Homo sapiens: one gene and its partners. The protein of the gene in region 3 interacts with the protein of the main gene of each other region in a biochemical or structural test. Each region holds a gene or a part of one and is shown on either strand. Other genes may lie near its edges. The genes, in order: SYNM, DRP2 and DTNA.

The links.
Region 1: the proteins of DTNA (region 3) and SYNM form a complex in vitro, tested with the Homo sapiens proteins (one study listed by BioGRID).
Region 2: the proteins of DTNA (region 3) and DRP2 form a complex in vitro, tested with the Homo sapiens proteins (one study listed by BioGRID and IntAct).

What each region holds. Positions count from the first base shown.
Region 1 is NC_000015.10:99,108,061-99,115,170, forward strand, and holds part of SYNM (synemin), read left to right. Parts: intron 1-5,530; coding exon 5,531-5,655; intron 5,656-7,110. UniProt on the Homo sapiens protein: Type-VI intermediate filament (IF) which plays an important cytoskeletal role within the muscle cell cytoskeleton.
Region 2 is NC_000023.11:101,257,718-101,264,827, reverse strand, and holds the end of DRP2 (dystrophin-related protein 2), read right to left. Parts: intron 6,520-7,110; coding exon 6,282-6,519; intron 4,780-6,281; coding exon 4,659-4,779; intron 4,332-4,658; coding exon 4,207-4,331; 3' UTR 326-4,206; downstream 1-325. UniProt on the Homo sapiens protein: Required for normal myelination and for normal organization of the cytoplasm and the formation of Cajal bands in myelinating Schwann cells.
Region 3 is NC_000018.10:34,811,198-34,818,307, forward strand, and holds part of DTNA (dystrobrevin alpha), read left to right. Parts: intron 1-761; coding exon 762-916; intron 917-4,711; coding exon 4,712-4,817; intron 4,818-6,764; exon of another isoform or gene 6,765-6,966; coding exon 6,967-7,110. UniProt on the Homo sapiens protein: May be involved in the formation and stability of synapses as well as being involved in the clustering of nicotinic acetylcholine receptors.

The DNA of each region.
Region 1 (7,110 bases), on a different chromosome or scaffold from region 3:
GCTTCCTGGGCTCAAGTGATTCTCGTGCCTCAGCCTCCCGAGTAGCTGGGAGTACAGGATCCCACCACCCCGCCTGGCTAATTTTTGTATTTTTAGTAGATACAGGGTTTCACCATGTTGGCCAGCCTGGTCTCAAACTCCTGACCTCAAGTGATCCACCGGCCGTGGCCTCCCACAGTGCTGAAATTACAGGTGTGAGCCATGTGCCCGGCCATTTTTTTTTTCCAGTTCCAATTTGCAGAGGTTTTACTGCACTAAGTGTTACCAGTCACTACCTTGTCCATATACTGAATCTTCCCTCAGTTAACTTAAGTCAACTCCATTTCAAATTGCATTCCAGAAGATTCAGCACCAATCACAGAGATGCTAGGAAGTATGTGAAAGAGGGAGTATGGATGATTTAACCCCAAGCCTGTAATTTTTTTCGGGTTCTGTAGAAGCTTACTATGGGGAGAGTGAAAAAATCCTAAAAATGGGTTGAATTAGTATATGGTAATAAATATCTTATTACTAAGAGCCTTTAGCAAGTGCTTCGTGTGTGCCAGGTACCACAGATGCCCTTCACAAATATTCACTCTCAGTGCCCACACCAGTGTTACGAAGTGGGTACTAATATAAGCTCCATTTTACAGAGGAGGAAGCTGAGGCACATAAGTCACCTGATTAGTAAGTAGTTAAGCCAGGATTCAACTCAGGCTCTAGTGCCTGAGCAACTGACCGCTGGGCGTCCGTTTCTCTCTTCTGTCTGTTTGATCAGAGAGAAACCTTTAACCAGTATTCTTGCATTCATAGCATAATGATAATTGCTCTTCCTAAGGGCTAGCCCGAGGTACTCTGCTGATTTCAAGTCCTAAAATGCTTTTAGACCCCTCCAGCTGGCTGAATAGTTTTGGCATTAAAACTATTTTCTTTCATTTCTTTTTTTCTGTGTTCCATGTGCTTTAATGCCCCCCTCCCCTGGAGGCAGGAGCTGGAGGCAGCAGAGGGTGCTGCCACATTGTGCCCAGCTCTCCCTGCCTCTGGCTATAGCTTCTGTGGCTCAAGGGGGAAGATGCTTGCTAGGATTCTACTTGAGGGGAAACTGGTCCTTCCCAGATGGCCCATGCGCCTTCACTGTATGAGGCGGTAGTCATTGGCCTGCCCCAGGCCTGGCCTCAGATTTGCCCGAGAAGAGTTTGCTGAACTGACATCCAAGTTCCCAAATGTGATCTAGATCACTTGAAGCCTGAGTGACACACCCAGGCTGCAGGAGGGGGCTTCAGAAAACACTTGAAGACATTTGCGATAAAGTGGAGACCAGCTTCACCCTGCAAACACGGAGATTTTTGCTTATGAAAGTGAGCCCTTAGCTGCTGAGGCTGACTGGAAAAGGCTTCCAAGCCCCCAAAACATGATTGAATGAAAGCTTTTTGTAGATGGGAAGGTGGGGTGGGATTAGGATGGGATTAGCTAAGGGTCAGTGCTCTGCAGCTGTCCTACCTGGCCCTGAATTCTGACTCTGCCGCTCTTTGGGCAGGTTACGTTCCTTAACCTGTCTGCAATTCAGTTTCCCCATTTGTGAAACGAGGTACTGGAAGTAGCTCCCAGGGTGTGTACAACTGGTTCATTCGTTCAGCTAACAGCCGTTGAGCATTTAGTGTGCCAAGCTCAGTTCTTCATGGTTGCAGATTCAGCAGTGAAAAATGCCACGTAAAACAAAGAAAGTCCCTTGACCTGAGAGGCCTTCAGGTGGAAACAGCGTGTGGTTTTTCGGGGATGCCTCAGCCAGGCTGCCGGTGTGGCTAGGGCACAGTGAACAGGGGGTAGAGTGGCCACTGCAGGACTTGGGCATTTACTTTGAGTGCCATGGGAAGCCACTGGAGGTTCTGAGCCGAGGAGAGTTGGGGCCTGGCTGTGGCTTAGTGGAATCACTGTTGCTGCTGTTTTAAAAATAGACTGAGTGGACTCAGGGATGCCTTCAGAGATTGTTGCAGTAACCCAGGCAGGAAGTGCTCGAGGCTTGGACCAGGGGTCTCAGAGGGGCCCCTGCGTTCAAGTTGAAGCCAACGGCATTTGCTGCCAGATTGAATGTGATGGGAGAGGGAGAAATCACAGTGGACTTCAGGCGTTGTGGCCTGAGCAACTGGAAGAAGGGACTTTCCTTGTTTTACGTGGCATTTTTCACTGCTGAATCCGCAGCCATGAAGAACTGCGCTTGGCACACTAAATGCTCAACGGCTGGTAGTTGAACGAATGAACCAATTGTATACACCCTGGGAGCTACTTCCGGTACCTCTTATACGCTTTACTGCGGGGCATTGGTTAGGAGGACGGGCCTGGGTGGGAGATTCAAGTTCCATGTACGTGTGTTCAGTTTGAGATGCTTCTTACACACCCACCTGGAATTGTAAAATATAACTTGAGTTCAGGGTGCTGTCTGGGCTAAGCTATAAATACTTCGTCGGCATCCAGTTCGTGCTTATTGTTATGAATACATTTAATTTTTGTGTGTAGCTGAAGTTATCACAGTATTTAAATCCCCTGGAGCTCTACCTTTCAAGGTTGCAAATGACAGTGATATTTGTGAACTGTCCCACAGGCTTGCTCAGTGAGCGGTAGCTCAAGTTTGGCTAAGAGAAAATTAATTCTTTTGATACTGACAGCAGCATGCCTTTCCTGGTGTGGAGCAAGATTTCATCATCGGTTGTGATGCTGCCCAAAAGTTCTCTAAATAGCAAAAAGGTGACCTCTCTCCCAAGCTTTTGCAGCATTAGGTGAAACTGCCTCTGCTCGGGTGAGATGTAGCGTCCCGTGTCTGGGGCTCCAGTGCCTCTGTCCTGACCCACAGCTTGCTGACTGGCCAAGCAGAGCCCAAGTCTGAAGTTTTATTCCACAGCAGGATTTGTTGTGATTTCTGCAGAGACCACTGGGAGCCAGTTAAGTCTTATATTCCTGCTTCCAAACGTCAACTAATTTTCCTTTGACAATTTAGGAGGAGCTGACTCACATGGAAATGTGACTGAAACTGTACTTATTCCAACTTCAACACAGTTTGATTTTCCTCTTTGTATTTTGTGGGTGCAGAACTATTCTGTGTGCTCTGGGAGGAGTATCTTCCTGCACACCCCTTCCACGTGACTAGGCTTTCTTGACCTGCTCAGGAGGTTTGTGGTTGGAGAGCTTTCATCGTATTTTTTTTCTAAGCAGTTTAACAACATTTGAACTTCTTTGTAAGGAATAAATTACTATAAATTTTTAATTTGTAATAGTTATGTCAAATTTCCTGTAGTAGGAAGGACACACATACATACATACATGCATACCTACAGCCCATCTTGTATGAGAACCTTGTACCTGAATTGTATTCCCTCTAAAACAGGGGAATGTAGGATTTTGACATTGAGATTTAACTCTAGAATGTGTGAATATTGTGGCTAAATTGTGGCAGTGCTGTCACTTACATCAAGACTGGCAGTTGCTCTTTGGTGAGCTTCTCTGTTTGTAATGCCAGCTGTGGGATCTGTTATCGTTTTTCCACCCTGGGACATAAGCCAGTGATTTTTAAGTTTACTTCTTTGCTTTAAAAGCTAAGGGGTTTTAAACTACTTCAGGACCCTTTATATTCAGGGAACCTAACAGCCATCATTGGCATAGAAATAGAACTGTTATGAGAAGTGGGAATATTTATTGGCTGATCATGCATTTTAAAAAATGATAAATTCTGGCTGGGTGCAGTGGCTTGTGCCTATAATCCCAGCACTTTGCAAGGCTGAGGCGGGAGGATCACCTGAGGTCAGGAGTTCAAGACCATCCTGGCCAACGTGGTGAAACCCCGTCTCTACTAACAATACAAAAATCAGTTGGGCGTGATGGCAGGCGCCTGTATACAGTCCCAGCTACTTGGGAGGCTGAAGCTGGAGAATCACTTGAACCTGGGAGGTGGAGGCTGCAGTGAGCCGAGATTGTGCCATTGCACTCCAGCCTCGGTGACAGAGCGAGACTGTCTCCAAAAACAAACAAAACAACCAAAAAGATAAATTCCATGTGCAATCTTGTAGAGTTCATTCCTTGGTTTCACAGACATATTTATTATGGACCCTCAGCATCTTGCCGGGTGCCTTTGGTGAAGGGATTCCAGCAGCAATGAACATAATATTCCCTCTCCCAGTAGTCTTACCGTTTTTGAATTCTACAAAGATAAATGTTTATAGGTCTAGCTTAGTTTAGTTAATGATGTTCAGAAATAATGCTACTTCCCATTACAAACCAGAAGTTAAAAGTACATGGACTTATTTCAATGTTTAAATACTTGCTTGGTTAATTGTTCCCCAGAGTAACTAACAACTAGGAATAAAACAAAACTGGAAATCGGTGCAGCTGAAGCCCATATGTTTGTTTGAGAAGATACTGTCGACTTCAAATAGTACATTTTGAGGAGGGTGATATGATCTTGATCATTTCATTTTAAATTTAATTGAGCAGCTATGTGCTGTGTGACTTGTATGTGGTGGGCACTGGTCTAGGTCTGGGATTCAGAAGGCCGCAGTATCTCCCTGCCAGGTAGAGAGGCAGGTCGGGGACCCGGCCAGGGGTGAGGGGAGCTGCGAGGAGCACCCAGGACGCCCTTACTAGCTGCACTGTGCAATTACGGTTCATAAAGCAGTTTTATTTATTTTTATTTTATTTTTTGAGGTGGAGTCTCGCTCTGTCGCTCAGGCTGGAGTGCAGTGGCATGATCTTGGCTCACTGCAACCTCCGCCTACTGAGTTCAAGTGATTCCTGTTCCTCAGCCTCCTGAGTAGCTGGGATTACAGGTCTGCGCCACCATGCCCAGCTATTTTTTGTATTTTCAGTAGAGACAGGGTTTTGCCATATTGGCCAGGCTGGTCTCGAACTCCCGACCTCAAGTGATCCGCCCGCTTCGGCCTCCCAAAGTGTTGGGATTATAGGTGTGAGCCACCACGCTAGGCCCAAAAAGAAGTTTTATATCTGAGTCTGTAGTTTGTCATTTATGCCCAGAATGCATTTCTCCCCAGATGATCTTAAAGTAGCTTTTCTAAGTGAAACAAAACTCTGTATCAGTTTACCTGCTTATTGTTGGAGAAATCATGACTTTGGGGAGTACATTTCAGTTCAATTCTGAGTGACTTATGTTTTGAATATTGTAAAACCCCTGATTTCTAGTCTTGGCTTATTTTCCATAGCGTCTTAGTGACTGGTTTGAAGCACTGGCTCTCCTAAGCAGCCTGATGTCTAAACGGTAGAGATGATTTGAATAAACTCCTAAGCATTCATTATTAATAGAGAGTCTGAACAGAGAAGCCAGTGTCCTATCAAAATGTTCCACATGCAATAAAAAACTTCCATATGGAAGAGATACAACATTGGAAACCATCCTGCAAGTGACTGCATGTTTAATAACGCCGGGTGTTTTTCTGGTCTGCTAATAACCCTGGTCTGTTTTTCAATTCGATCCTGAATTGTTGGTACCTTCAGTTCGACCCAGTAAAGCTCCAGTTCTCTGATATAAAAGTCTGTCTATTCTCTTTAGAGAGTGATTGACTGCCTGGAGGATGAGAAGGCAACCCTCACCTTGGCCATGGCTGACTGGCTGCGGGACTATCAGGACCTCCTGCAGGTGAAGACCGGCCTCAGTCTGGAGGTGGCGACCTACCGGTAAGGAGACTGTGCTGAGTTGGCCTTGACGAAGCCATGGGGGTGTAACTTGCACATGAAGGAAACTGGTCTAGGGACCGTAGCCTTTGTGGAGTCACTGTGGCTTTGTGACAAGCAGAGAGCAGCCCTTGGCATGGCCAGGCAAGGAGTCCGAGGCCAAAAGGAAGAGGAAGAGTAGGGCTTGCTTAGGTCACTGAGCAGGTGTCTCCAGCAAGGGAGTAGCTGAGCCGTGCCCCCTTACCTAGTGTTTGTATGTTCTGGGGACTGCTGAAGAGCTTCACACATGTCAACGTGTTGGATCCTAGGAACTGGAGACTGTGTTTACAGATGAACAGACTTTGCTCAGAGAAGTTACAGAACTGGAAAGTGGAGGGCCAGGATGTGTTAGTGTGTTTTCACACCGCTATAAAGATCCTACCTGAGCCTGGGTAATTTACAAAGGAAAGAGGTTTAATTGACTCACAGTTATTCCGCAGGGCTGGGGAGGCCTCAGGAAACTTACAATCGTGGCGGAAGGCAAAGGAGAAGCAAGAACCTTCTTCAGAAGGTGGCAGGAGAGAGAGAGAGCTCAGGGGAAACTGCCACTTTTAAAGCATCAGATCTCATGAGAACTCACTCCCTATCATGAGAACAGCGTGGGGAAAATTGCTCCCATGATCCAGTCACCTCCCACCAGGTCCCTCCCTCAACACGTGGGGGTTACAAATCGAGATGAGGTTTGGGTGGGGACCCAGAGCCAAACCGTGTCACAGGATTTGGACCCAGGAAGTCTGTGTCTATCTGCTTGATTGTTGCTTTGAATCTCAGGGCTCTGATGCCACCCTGTGTGGGTTTGGCCCTGAACTGAATCTCTTCCAAGAGATTAGCATGGTGCATGCTAATGTAGGCCAACTGGCTTTATGTATCAAGATGTTGACTTGAGTTCAAGGTAACCAACTCTGATGAAAAGGTCACAAAGCGCTCAAAGGGGCTGGGTGCTGGGTGGGGCAGAGAATGCAGTCCAGTCCCCCTGGGTGTGGCCTGCAGGCCGGCGGAACAGTGCTCCTCCCCTCCTTGGCATCACCCTCCTTTCCCCTGGGTGCCAGTGCGTCTTTGATTGAGGTGGTGCCCCTTGTTTCCTGGCAGCTCTCATGCTCAGGGCAGCTATGAAGGAGCCAGGGTCTGTGACGCTTACAGTGGAAGGAATTTTAGAGACCCAGTTGCCCAACTTCAGGAACACTAACAATAGCCAGCTTTATGGCGTCCTTACTGCCTGCCAGACGTGGTGCTGAGTTCTTTGCCACTATTCTCTGCTCCGAGTCAACTCTGAGGTGGGCACCACTCTCCCCTCTTAGAGGTGAGAGAGAGAGGCCGGGAGGTTGGGGCTGCAGGCTGGTGAGGGGCAGAGCCAGCCAGGTCTGGTGCCAAAGCTGTGCCATCCCCACCAAGCCGTGTAAAAAGGGCACAGTGCCTGCT
Region 2 (7,110 bases), on a different chromosome or scaffold from region 3:
TTTTCTTACAATGCTTCAGGCTGGTGAAAAACCCTCAGATTGAGGAGGATGAAATTTAGAAACGATTGCTACATACAGCTCATCTCATAAGGCGCTAACTAGCTAATTTGGGGAGGGCTGGGAGGATGTTGAGAGGTGATTAATCCGGGTAACAGTGGCAGATGAGCCCAATGGGGAGGTCTTTTTGTGTCCCACAGGTGTTGGACTCATCTGGTAGCCTTATGTTTTACAGTACTTCTGTGGCTTCTTGGTCTACCCTCTCTTCCCACCCCCAAATAAGGGAAAGATATGAAATATCAGACTCAGAGAGTATAACCAGAGGAACCAAAGTAAACAAGTACAAATTTATTCTTTTCAAAGCAGAATTCAAGGGAAAGGGGGAAAGCACCACAGTGAGTGGCAATCAAAGTTAACCAATTTGTTCCCAACCCTGTCCCTTTGTCCCCTAGACTTCCATGCCACCCTTGTCACCTCCCCCAAATCCTTTCCCCAATTTTCATCCTGTGACCAGTTCTTGTAGCCAGCAAGCAGCATACCAGACTTCGGTCAGGCCTCAATACTGCCATAGGGGACAGCAAGGGCATTCAGCAGGCCCCCTCTCAAATGTGGCAACTGTGGGAGAAGATGGACTCTGCGAGCTGAGCCCTGGCCTTGAGCCTTTCCTTCTCCCACAGCCATTGGTGTTAAAAGAGTAAGAAGTAGCTAAAGTGTTCCTTGTTCCTACGGGAACCACCCAGCTGAAGAATTAAGTCTCCACAGCCTCAGGACAAGGCCCCCAGTTTTTTTCCCAGAACTGTTCGAGTTAAGGCAGCTACTTTCTTGCTTTTCTGTCATCTATGTGAAGGGAAATTGGATGGGATTTTTGGCCTTGAAATGGTGCCACAGACCATGACTCTGCCACTGAGAATGTGAGTTCAAATGCTGGATATAGAGCCCAAATCTCAAGCACACACATCAGGAAGCACAGATATTCCTTAAAATGAATCTGGAGGGAAAACATCTCCTAGGATTGGCCTCTTCCTGGCCTCAGGGTTTCTCATTTCTGTGTCCTGCCAACCCATTTCCTGGAGCACCAGAAACTCAAACAGATTTCTCTGTAGGGAAATAGTTCCCAACCTTGGACCTTGAAGAAAATGAGCACTTGAAACTCTTGATTCTAGCCTTTCTAATCTGGAGGGAAGGGCACATGTCCTCCCTAGGGAAGCATAGCACAGCCTGATGTCCTCCAGCTAGTCAGCCTTCCGTGACAATGCCCAATCAATGTGAATCCACTCTGCTGTCACTGGAAGCAGAGGTATCCTCGTAATGGCTTTTTGGCCTCTATCAAATTCTGTCAAGAAGAAATCACCTCTCAGTCCTAACTGTTCTCTGATACTATTTGACAACAACCCCAGCAAATGCTCACATTCCTTATCATTGATGCTAATCCCACAGTCAGAAGGTTTTCTTTAGGCTATCAATCTAGCAACTCCCTTCACCATCCTTCCAGTGTAGGGCTATAAACTACACAGTGCCATGCACAATATCCTTAGAAGACTAATACACAACAAGATGTCTAACAACATACAACACATTTTGGTAAATCCAACCCCAAGTTGGATTCATAGTACCCAAGGATCCATTTACCTTACTGTGGGAAAATTCCCCACACATACTGCAGTGACTGTCCCTGGACCCTTGAACAATACACTCACCTTAGGCATTAAGGTAAACACAGGACCACAAAATGTCAGTGACCCCTTAGTGAGAATTCAACTCTTGACCTGCTGCTTCAGTCCACCTACAACGCAAATCCTACATAACAAGATCTACATCTTTTCTACCATGCCTGGCCCACTGCAGTTGCCACAGGCCCTCAGCAGCCCAAGAGCTCTCAGGTGGGGTGGGGATAACAGAAAAGATTTTCCAGGACTTTCCTGGTAAAAAATTGCTCCATAACATGTACCCGCCTAAGGCTTAGGCAGGCATATGCCTCCAAAGTCCTTGAGCCCTCCGTCCCACATTCCCGCCCACAATCTAGGCTTCTACAAATATGCTCCCACTCTGACTGATGCCCAGGTTCTATGATTGATGCCCGCCTACCACCTGCTCAACCATCTATCCAGATACCCAGTTCTCCTGCCCAGAGACCTCATGAACACTAAGGCAGATGTTATGCTGTGAAGTCTGACACCCTGGACCTGTGACTTAGTGGTGGAGGAGGCAACCCTAAGCTTCTGGACCCAAGCCACTGCCCTGCCTCCCCTGCAGCAGATCAAACTAGGTTCCTAGCAGTTCTACCCACTGGCCCACTGCTGGATTATAATACAACACCCCAACCGTCACTCCCTCCTGATTGTGGTGGCAACTGTTGCTTTCTTTAGCCCTGAGTGAGACCATAAGAGCTGGAAGGGACCAGAGAATGTTCTCTGTGTCTTAGCTGGCAAAGGCTAATAAAGGCCTGTTTGTCCTTTTCTGCATGGGGTGGGCAGAGCTTGGGTTTGCTCTATTTTGGCACCTGAACCATTTAGGGGAGCCCAGGAAAATTCACCCAAGGCCCAGGTCTCAAGGGAACAAGATTTGGAATGAGTGAAGAGAACAGTGACTCTTCCTGTTAGATTCTCTGTGACCACAGGTTTCTGTTGCTTTGGTCTTGAGGACAGCCCACCCCAAACATCAATGGAGAGAGATATCCTAGGGGAACAGCCAGGATACATCTATCTTTCCAACCAGAGGCTGGGGCTAACAAAGAGCAAGGCAGAACATTAATACTTCAAGAGGTATTAGAATTTAATGTGTGAGTGAGGCCAGGAGAGCACTGATGTACAGTAGATATGTAGAATAGATATGTATGTATATAAACTTAGGCAAATGAAGTCAACTGCAGGGCTCTAGGTTATAAAGCTCCTCTTGGGAGAAAGCTGCCTAAGTGGGCTCTGAATCTATTCAACATTCCCAAGCCCACTCCCCCACCCCTACTATCTATTCTGAACAGTTTCTGGATAAAGAGATCATGGTATATGTCGCCTAGGAAGAGCTAGTTCAGTTTGAGGATTGGATTCACCTTCCAGAGTTAGAAATAACAATTTTAGGCACAGGAAGGCCTTGCTGTTGTTGTCTGGGTGGAAAGTGGCCAGCTTCCTGATTTGTGGCCTGTGGCTCCTATGGAGGGGCCACTACACACGGTAGCCAGTTGCAAATGCCTTATGATTAGCTGGGGACAATCAGCCACCTCACCTGATTCAGCCTGAGAGCTAGAAGGGTCACAGCCTGGAAGGGTGTTGGATGGCAGTCATACTACTCCAGACTTGAGGTGGGCTTCCTCTTCCTTACCCAAGGAAAGCAACACTCCCTTGCTCAGCAAGCTGCCACTGTGTCCTCAGGTCTGTGAGGACAGACTCAGAGGAGCAAAGGGTGGCTTCAGCCAGGTTTCCAGAGCAACTCGCAACTCAGTGGGTCTCTCAAAATGCTGAGGACTTTAAGAAATAGGAAGATGTGGGGCAAAAAAAAAATCTAAACCCATAAGTATGGATTTAATGCTTCCAAATATAACGTAGAAGAACCAGAATGAACTGTTCTCCCCTTAAGGAAGGTCTGTCAGGGACTGAGGCTAAAGAAAATGAAGATATTTGAGGAGAAACCAATACCTAGGTAGCATTAGGATGGCTAGCAATCTGTCCTGGAGCTGAAGTAATAGAACACACACTGCCCAGACTTTTTCAGGGGCACTTGGGGTGGGGAAGGTGTCTCGGGGATACCCTTTTGCCTCCCTGAGTTGCGCCAGAGAGTAGGGGTAAACCCTGTGGATTCATAATGCTGGATGGAACCTTGGGGTAATTAGGCTTCTCTCTTTCCATAATTCCACGGAGAAGGAAGAGGGGCCAACATGTACCGCTTAGCTCTGCAAGGCAGCTTCTCTGCTCCCCATCTGAATGGCCAAGTGATATTTGCCTGGGCTGCAACAGAAAGGTACTTAAAGGGCTGATCTCGAACTTGAAGATTAAAGGGAACATTTCTAGGGTCAGAAGAATCATGCCTCCCCTTCTCCCATCACTGCCCGCATGCACCTCACATACCACCAGATCCCTGCTGCTGCCCAGAGCCCAAATAATACTAGTTGAGGAATGTGGGGCCAGTGGAAACTGGAAAGGTTGGGTGAAGGCTGAGGAAAGGCTTTGACCGGAACCAGGAGAGGACTATGAACTATAGGATGGGGATCTGGCTCCATCAAGAGGCCAGCAGGGTGTTGGCAGTCACATCAGAACTTCGCACACTGGGGAAGGCATGACGGAGTTTCTCCATGATGTCCTCCAAGCACAGGCTGACATCCTGGCTCTTTGACCCCACATCATCTGGGTTAAAAAACAGAGATTTGAGAAGAGAACTAGAGACTCCTTTATGAGGCCAAGGGGTCAGATAGAATTCTGCCAGCTGAAGGGCAGACCTGCCCGCAGCATTTGCATCTTCCCAGCACAATGCCTAATACATAGGTTGTGCTCAATGTATATTTATTTGTGGAATAAGCATATGAATTAATCAATCAGTAAACCAATCATCCCTGACCCTAAGCACAAAGCCAAGAGGAGAAACCAGTCCCAGCCCCGCAAAGCCTTGGGCAGGAAATCGAGGGCAGGACAAAGCCATGGAGAAAGGGGCTGGGAAAGGCCAGGGGAACTCACCTGCAGCCTCGGTATCTGGAGTAGTCTGTCCCTTCTCCCGGGGGTGACTGCCTTCTGACTGCTGTGGAGAGGAAGCTAGGGACGAGCCTGCAGAGCCACTGCCATCTGATTCGGTGGGTGGCTAGCAAGAGGTAAGGCATGACTTAAGTGGATTTGCCTTCCTGACCTTACTCTGACAGACTCCTGAGCTTAGAAGGGACCTGAGAGACTTCATACCATCCCTTTACCCTTAGACTTTAAGAAGCTTTTGGTATTACCTAAAACAGTGGCTTCCACTTTTAGGAAACTTCTTAGAATATTGAATTACCCATTACCTTCTTCCTTTAACAACATGTGTCAAAGGCTCCCAGTTCTTATAAGAATGGCATTGTAGGCTGGGCGCGGTGGCTCACGCCTGTAATCCCAGCACTTTGGGAGGCTGACGCAGGCGGATCACCTGAGGTCAGGAGTTCAAGACCAGCCTAACCAACATGGAGAAACCCCGTCTCCACTAAAAATACAAAATTAGCCGGGCATGGTGGCCCATGCCTATAATCCCAGCTACTTGGGAGGCTGAGGCAGGAGAATCGCTTGAACCTGGGAGGCGGAGGTTGCAGTGAGCTGAGATCGAGCCATTACACTCCAGCCTGGGCAACAAGAGCCAAACTCTGTCTTGAAAATTAATTAATTAATTAATTAATTAAATAAAGAATGGCATTGTACCTAAAGGTCTCTTGCTGTCATTTCAGCTATAATTAAGCTATTTAGAACACAATTCTCTCTGGAAATGTAGAGTTTCACACCTGATCCTTGGTTCATGACATAGCATATGTTAGAAACCTCCAGGAATCCATAGAGGCCATTCCTTGGAGGATCTGGGGAAGAGGCAGAAGAGTGGTATTTTCCATTACATATAATGACAATAATAGGTAACATTTATGAAGTGTGTACTAAATTCCTGGCATCATGCTAAATTCCATAAATGCATTATCTCCTTTTATGTTCACCACAATTCTATGAAGTTGGTACTGTTACCATCTCTGTTGTACAGATGAGGAAACTGGGGCTTAGAGAGGTTAACTAACTGTCCAAACACCCCACAGTCAATTGGCAGAGCCACATGCAAACCCAGAGCTGCCTGACTCCAGAGCTTTACCACAGCATACACATTGCCTCTCAGAGATGAAAGGTGCAAAAAGTAACAAGAAACACCTTTAGATAGCACTAATCTTTCTCTTGCCAAACTTGTCCCAACCCACTTCTTTCTAGCAAATACCATACTAGCAAAATCAATGTTTTAGATGATTTTTGAAGTTTGTTCTTTTAGTATGGGATTCCAATGGGTTGTGAAGAAATAAGCCCTCAGAAGTCTTCTCTCTGCCCCAGGCCCCACAGTGGCTGGAGAGTGACACACAGGGTGGCATGGAAGGTAGGTGGAAGAGAGTTGGCTGAAGATGTGACCATACCAGTCTCTTCTTTCCCCCGCCCCCCCACCAACCGCAGGCCCAGTTCTCTTCAGGAAGTTACCTGACAGCCACTGCCAAGGAGCTCTCTCTTGTGTCTTCTTTGCCACAGCCCTCAGCTCCCCAGCCCTTCCCCTGGGCTCAGAGGCCACCCTGGCTCTTTTCCTGTCTCCATCCTCACCTGCAGGAGAAGCTCCCTCAGACGCTGCAGCTGGGACTCTAGCTGCTTGTTGTGATCTTCGAGGATCTGCATGCGCGTCTCCAGGCGGCTCTTATGTTGCCGAAGGATACGGGCCTCGGCCAGAAGCTCCTCATTGCGGTGGTCTGTTGCTGCCTCAGTGGAGCCGTCAGCCAGACTGGGTGCCTCAGCTGCCTCCTCATGCTGCCACTTCAGGCGCCTCAGCTCTCCCTGGAGAATCCTGCCATGGAGAGAGACACCAAGACCTATGGCTCTAACAGGGCTCTGACTGTCCAGGTTTCAGATGTCCCCTCAGGCCTAGGTGTGAACAATCCCTGTGCTCTTCCACCCTACCTCACCCCCACCCCCATCCCCACCCCCAGCTGTGCTCTTGCTTGAATGGCCACATCCACTTCCTCTCCAGCACATATGTCATTTACTCTGCCATCCTGAGACCTCAGAGCAGAGAAAGTTGACATTTTGCGTAAGAAATGTCTCAGGGCTTTGATGTGCTGCTTTAGGGATTAATTCTGACCTTAAAATCAGGCAGAAACACAGTCTGCAAATAAAGGAGGCATTAGGGCCACTGACTCACCTACTCCATTTTTAGATGTTTAGATTCCAAGGGAAAACATAACATAAACAAGAGACCACCTGTCTTGCCTCTTCTCTCCACAATCCTCCTCTTTGGCCCACTTTGAACACCCATGCTGGGTCATCAAAAAAACAAATTCCAAACAGGTGGCCTACTTTTGGGGATATCACTTTTGGCTTTGTTCGTTTTTTCTTTATTTGCAACAGAACAGTCACTCTCAGCCCAGTGTTTCCCAGG
Region 3 (7,110 bases):
CCATTAATATTCATTAAATGCACATAGTGGCAGAAATTGAAGAACAGTGGTTCAGTGAAGCCATAGGCCCTTCAGAGAAAGATCCAGGACCCTGACTTTACCTCATTGATCATCCACAAGACCAGGCTTCCTCTTCACTACACGAGTCAGAAAACCCTTCCCTGTAAATCAAGTGCCTTCCACCCAGAAAACTGTAATTCATAGAAAGTTTTCTTCTTCTGTAGGAAGTTAATCAAGTGTTTGTCATTACATCTTTATCCTCACCGTGTCTTTGATTTTCAAATATCTTACACCAAAATCCGAAAGTTTTAGTGATAATATAAATTGGTAAATTTCTAGCTAGATAAATGAATATACGCACACCCCAACTTTATAGTAAAACTCTCATTGTGTTTCAAATGAAGTCAGCGTCTCTCTCATATATACAAAAATTTCTCTTGTTGAGCTACATGAGAGTTAATAGTTGACCTCAAAACAAAAATGTAGTGTCTTATTAAAGACATTTAATAAGTGTCTCTCTCATTAAAATGTTAACTTTACCCAAATTACTTGTGATTGCTATGTGCCAGAATCATCTACAAAAAGAAACCAGAGAAAACATTATGCCAGGAATATTTCAGCATAAAAATTAGCTTTTATATTATTCTTTCATAAAAAATGTTTATTTTGCTACTTTTTTGTCATTTGTAGCAGATATATTGAACAAAAACAGTGGAGAATGTTCATGTGATGAATAATATCTTTCCTTTTCCTTTCATCAGATATTTTCTCAATGATTTCTGACTCCAGTGGGGTGATGGTTTATGGACGATATGACCAATTCCTTCGGGAAGTTCTCAAACTACCCACGGCAGTTTTTGAAGGTCCTTCATTTGGTTACACAGAACAGTCAGCCAGATCCTGTTTCTCCCAACAGGTAGGAGAAAAATATGTTTAAGGAAGTATCTCTTTCAAACAGTGGTTGCTCTCCTTCTAGATGTCATTCCAGGTCACAGATACTCAGACAAATTATTCTGTGTGATAGCAACCTGTATTGTATTTTTCAGCCTCTGGCAAATGACCTCTGAGCCAGTAACTAAACCCAGCACATCTGGATCACAATAATAGACAGTGTTTACTGACCATGAGGCAGGCACTGTGCTAAATTTTTTCCTTTCATTGTCTAATTTAATCCCTACAACAACCCTTCTGTGTTAGTCTCTTTTCACACTGCTATAAAGACATACCCGAGACTGGGTAATTTATAAAGAAAAGAGGTTTAACAGACTCACAGTTCCGCCTCAGGAAACTTACAATCCTGGTGGAAGGTGAAGGGAAGCAAAGACCTACCTTCTTCACATGGCGACAGGAAAGAGAAAGAATGAAAAGCCCAGGGGAATCTGCCATTTATAACACCATCGGATCTCCTGAGAACTCCCTCACTATCATGAAAACAGCATGGGGGAACCACCCCATGATCCAATCACCTCCCACCAGGTCTCTCCCTCAACACCTGGGAATTACAGTTCAAGATGGGATTGGGTGGGGACACAAAGCCTTACCATATCACCTACACCCTCAGTGTCATTATTTTTACTATCACTGCACTTTCAAAAGGGCTTAATTGTCTCACTCAGCCTCATGTGAAATATATGCTTGACCCGGCAACAAGCTTTAACATTGGTTTAGCAAAGGATACCAGAAAGGAATCCCAACATCTGCCACATCATGACCTGAGAGGCCCAAAATATGGTAAACACAGCTGCCTGAATCTTCTACAGCATGACACATTTGGGGTTCCAAGTGATGTGTTTTAACTGGGTATGGCTCAAGCTACCCTGGGAAGCTGCATAGTTTAGGGGGCTATCTATGTGTGTACCTCTCTGGTCATGTAGAGAGACTCCAGGCCCATTCTCCAGCGTAGCCCAGTGGTAGCATAGAAATCCATACATTAAAGGTTAGTTTACCATTTTTTGAGAATCCAAACTAACTTTTTTGTCCTCTAAAAATGCCTCTTGACTGGGTGTGGTGGCTCACTCCTATAATCCCAGGACTTTGGGAGGCCGAGGCTCAGGAGCTCAGGAGTTCAAAACCAGTGTGAGCAACATAGGGAAACCCCATTTCTACGAAAAATTTTTAAAACATAGCCAGGCATGGTGGTACATGCTTGTAGTCCTAGCTTCTCAGGAGGCTGAGGCAGGAGGATAGCTTAAGCCCGGATGGCGCCACTGCATTCCAGCCTGGGCGACAGAGCAAGGCCCTGTCTCAAAAAAAAAAAAAAAGGTATATCCCTGCCCCATAAAATGCATACAACAAATGCTCACTACACAGCTTTATGGATTAAGAGTCAGGAAGTCTTTTCTTTTTACTGAAATTAACTTTTAAAAGTGTCAATAGGCCGGGTGAGGTGGCTCACTCCTGTAAGCCCAGCACTTTGGGAGGCCAAGGCGGGCGGATCACAAGGTCAGGAGTTTGAGACCAGCCTGTCCAATATGTTGAAACCCCGTCTCTACTAAAAATACAAAAATTAGCCGGGCATGGTGGCAGGCACCTGTAGTCCCAGCTAGAAGCAGGAGAATTGCTTGAACCCGTGAGGCAGAGGTTGCAGTGAGCCAAGATTGTGCCACTGCACTCCAGCCTGGGAGACAAAGCAAGACTCCATCTCAAAAAAAAAAAAAAAAAAAAAGTCAATCACTTCAAAACACAAATCTATTTTTTCATTCAATTTTACTGCTTTCCAACTTTTCTCATGGCATGCTAAATGTATGGCTCCTTTTATTTTTACAGTGCTTTATGCCTCACAAAGTGAATTATCTGATTTATGGCTTGCAACAACCCTGTGACCTAACAAGGAAAATATGATTCTTTTTTAACAATATAAAGTTCATAGCTAGTGAGGGCAGGGGGCTGAGTTTTTAACTCTGGTCTTCTAATTCCATCTGTTAATGTTATTCTTGTGTTCTTGTTGTTGTTGCTTTTGTTTTGTGCACTTTCAGTTCATATTTACAAATATGCAGATGATCTGACTCAAGGAAATGTAACTACCTGTTGTATTACTTCACCCAGTCATGGAAACAAGAATAATTTCATTTATAACTGAATTCTTGAATTTTAGTTAGTGTATTATAGAATAATTGGTAAATGTGCTAATGCCTCAGAATATATGTCTCATTCAAAATCAGCTAGAATAATAGGACTGGGTTTTAAAAAAAAAATCTTAAAAGGACCTATGCTGGTGTGATGGCTCACACAGTAATCCTAGCACTGAGAGGCTGAGGCAGGAGGAGAGCTTGAGTCCAGCAGTTCAAGACCAGCCTGGACAACATAGTAAGATCTCATCTCTGAAAAAAAAAAAAAATTAAACAATTAGCCAGGTGTGGTGGCACACACTTATAGTCCCAGCTACTTGGGAGGCTGAGATGAGAGGATCCCTTTAGCCCAGGTGTTCAAGGTTGCAGTGAGCTATAATTGTGCCACTGCACTCCAGCCTGGGCAGCAGAGTGAGATCCTGTCTCTAAAAGAAAAAAAAAAGAGAAAAAAGGACCTATGTGTTCAAGAATTATATGTGATGTTGACATGTTCAAAATTCCTTTTGAAATATCCTATAGACTGTTCTGTTATATGATTTATATATATCCTTAATGATAAGCAACTTATACATGTTGAAATCATAATAGCATTGTTGGAAACTTCCAGGAGTGCTTTTTAGCAAGTATGACAAATAGTCAAAATGAATAAGATCATTTCAAATATGAAAAGAGGTAACACAAAAATAATAAGACCAGTTTATTTTTGTACTTAATGAATTGGCTATTAACAGCTACTCAAGAGTCTGAGGTAGGTAGGAGGAGGTAGGAAGACAGCTTGAGACCAGGAGTTAGAGTCCAGCCTGGGCAACATAATGAGACCCCATCTTTCAAGCAAATAAATAAAATATTTTAAAAAATAAATAAATAAAATTATCCCATCCCCTTTGATATTCTAGTTCAAAATTTCAAGTAGTGATTTTTGCATATAAATATGTATTTTTTTATTTATACCATTACAGTACATGTATTAATATAGCTTTCTTACTTTTATCATTTTGAAAGAAACTTATAGATACAATGCATTCCTTTTGTACATCCAAAAGGACCTGGATAGTGAGAAAGAAGCAGACTGAATTGAGAGGAATTATATATAAAGTAATAAAAGGAGCAAATTTTTAAAAATGTAGATGGTTCTGTCCTAACAGGATTCCCTCCTGCTCTTGTATAACAGAACCATTCACATTAACCACTAAATATTTAGTACTTAAGGAAGTTGAGGAAGCTCAGAAGGGAAGTTGTTCTATAAATTTAGAAGACTGACTGACAGGAAAATTGTAGAGTGAGCTATGATGCGTTCTTGAGTAAAATTCCATGGAGAATTTCCATTCTTTATTTTGCTTCATTATTTTTATACTGTCTTTCATATATACAAATGATGCTCTTGGAATTGTTTTTCTCCTGGTGATACTATTGACTCAGCCTCAGTGGAGAGAATTCAGTCCTATGTCTGCTTAGGTATAAAAAGCAAACGATGTTTTCAGTTCTAAACTAGTTTAATAACACATTTGGCAAGTTCTGTTTCTTCAGATATTAGACATTTATTGAGTGCTCTTTTGTTTCAGTCTCAAATGATATGATATTTACATAGCAGGTAAATTGAGATGATTCTCTGTCCTAAATTTATGGGGGGTTTTTTTATGCAGAAAAAAGTCACGTTAAATGGTTTCTTGGACACGCTTATGTCAGATCCTCCCCCGCAGTGTCTGGTCTGGTTGCCTCTTCTGCATCGACTAGCAAATGTGGAAAATGGTGAGTAGTTACTAAGGAGCAAAGGTGATTTTTTAAATTATTGAAATTAGGCCATTAGTTCTACAGTTAGTAAGCCCAGGCTGTTGTTTTAGGGAAGCCTATTTAGTGGCTCTTAGTTTTGTTTAGGGTAGAACTAACCCATCTCCCTGTTCGGGAAGGCCTTAAAGGACCACTGAAAAATTAGGACTGTCAGTTCCAAAAATAAATCTCATGGTCTTCTTCTCAATTACAAGTCAGGTGTGGTTAAAAGACTTGGCACGATAGAAGGCGAACTTCAACAAGGAGTGTGACATTATTTTGTATTTGTTTTAGATCCGAATTTCTCATATTTGCATACACGGTACTGATTATTTCTTCCCAGGCACTCAGCCAGAAATAGGTGGGAGAAATGAGAAAAAAAAATAGATGATAGCACCCTGTTAATCTTTAGTCATATGTTCCAGATTGTGAGCTTTCAATAGTTGTACTTACGTTAAAGATAAGAGTAAAATAACTTTCGTATCATGTCTTTTTTTAAAGCAAGTATTTCTAGGATAAAAGGAACTACTGTTGGCATATCCAGATTTAAATATGAAATACCATTTGGGGCAAAATTTACAGAAAATTAAACATGGAGCAGTTCAGTGCCTCCATCTAATCTTTAGGTGTTCCTACTTATTGTTCAATGTAACTCTGAAATTTCTCCAGACTTGACGAGGAAATAATTTAGTCTCTATCTCTTACTGAGATTTAACTTAAGTCTCTATATATTACTCAACTTCTGTGTATTTCTTTAATATACATTGCAGCTAAAGTTAGCTTAATTTTAAATTATCATTCAGAATTTTTAGCATCTGCCCTTATTTATCTGTTAGTTAGAAGTTATGAATTTATCCTGTTTTTCTCATGGAGAAAATTTAAAGAATGAATTTATTTTATTTTTTTGCAATCACTAACAATCATAGTTTTTTTATGTTTATCCATATGCAGAAGCGAAGAGCAATCAAGGTCCATGTTATTATGCAAAATGAGTTCACGTTACTGTTTACAGTTCTAGAACTAGTCATTTTCCAATCATAAAGCTATAATTTCTTTCGTTCTCTCTCAGCATTTCCTGCTGCAGGAGATCAGTTTCTTAGGCACCATCCCAGAACAGTTGTCCCTAGATTGAAGTCCCACTCTAGTCTTTCTCAAGAGCCGGGAAGAAAGGTTATGACACTTGTTTAGAAGACAATGCGTCCAGAGCTAGTTATGTCTTTGTTTTTACACTTTGCTTTTTATCTTCATTTATTATTATTTTCATTGTTTTTCCTGACTGGTTAGGCCGGAGAATAGCTTTACCAAAGGCAAGAATTGTTATTGTTGTTTTAGTATCTAGCTCATAGCATGTAGACAATTACTTGGATTTGATCACTTAAATCTAATATTTTACTTTGCTTCAAATCTAGTATTTTGCTTTGCCTGCTTTATAATTCAAATTTCCTACCAAAGAAAGTTAACCGTCTCTTGAGGCATTTGAATTATTTAGAACTGTTTTCAGATAATTTGCACATCTTTTTTAGGGCCCTATACACCTGCCTCAGGAAAGAAAAAAAAATCTGTTTGTCAGATGTAGGCAACACCACTCGTTAAGTAAGCCATTAGTCACTCTATTTTTTAAAAAATAACTTAATTATCTCATCCACACCAGTTTTCCATTCTCTGCCCATCTTCCTTTCTTTTTTCTTCCTCTCATTCTCCGTGTCTCTGATATTCGCTCTCTTCCCACTGGACAATCAGCATTCACCCCTTGTGCTTCTGAGTCTTCCAGTGAGCTGTGCTGGTCTCCTGGAGACAGAGAGCAGTTTGGGGTAAAGGCAAGTCTGTTTGGCTAATTTAAATTCTTGTAATGTGAGAGATGGGAATAGAAAGAGCAAATGGCATTACAGAGATTTTTGTTGTTAAAAGGACACCTCTTCTCCATCCCATTTCATTTCATTTCCCCACAGGCATGATTGAAAAGGGTTGTAAGATTCCAGGAATGAACTAAATGTTTCTCTGAGCCCAAATCAACTATCATCTGAAATCGTGGTGCAGAGAAGAAAGGTGCAATTCCTGTAAGGCTGTATTTTTCCTTCTTCTGGTTCATACTTTTGTTTTCTTGGTTTTTCTTCACTTACTTCCCCCTTAGTCTTCCATCCGGTTGAGTGTTCCTACTGCCACAGTGAGAGTATGATGGGATTTCGCTACCGATGCCAACAGTGTCACAATTACCAGCTCTGTCAGGACTGCTTCTGGAGGGGACATGCCGGTGGTTCTCATAGCAACCAGCACC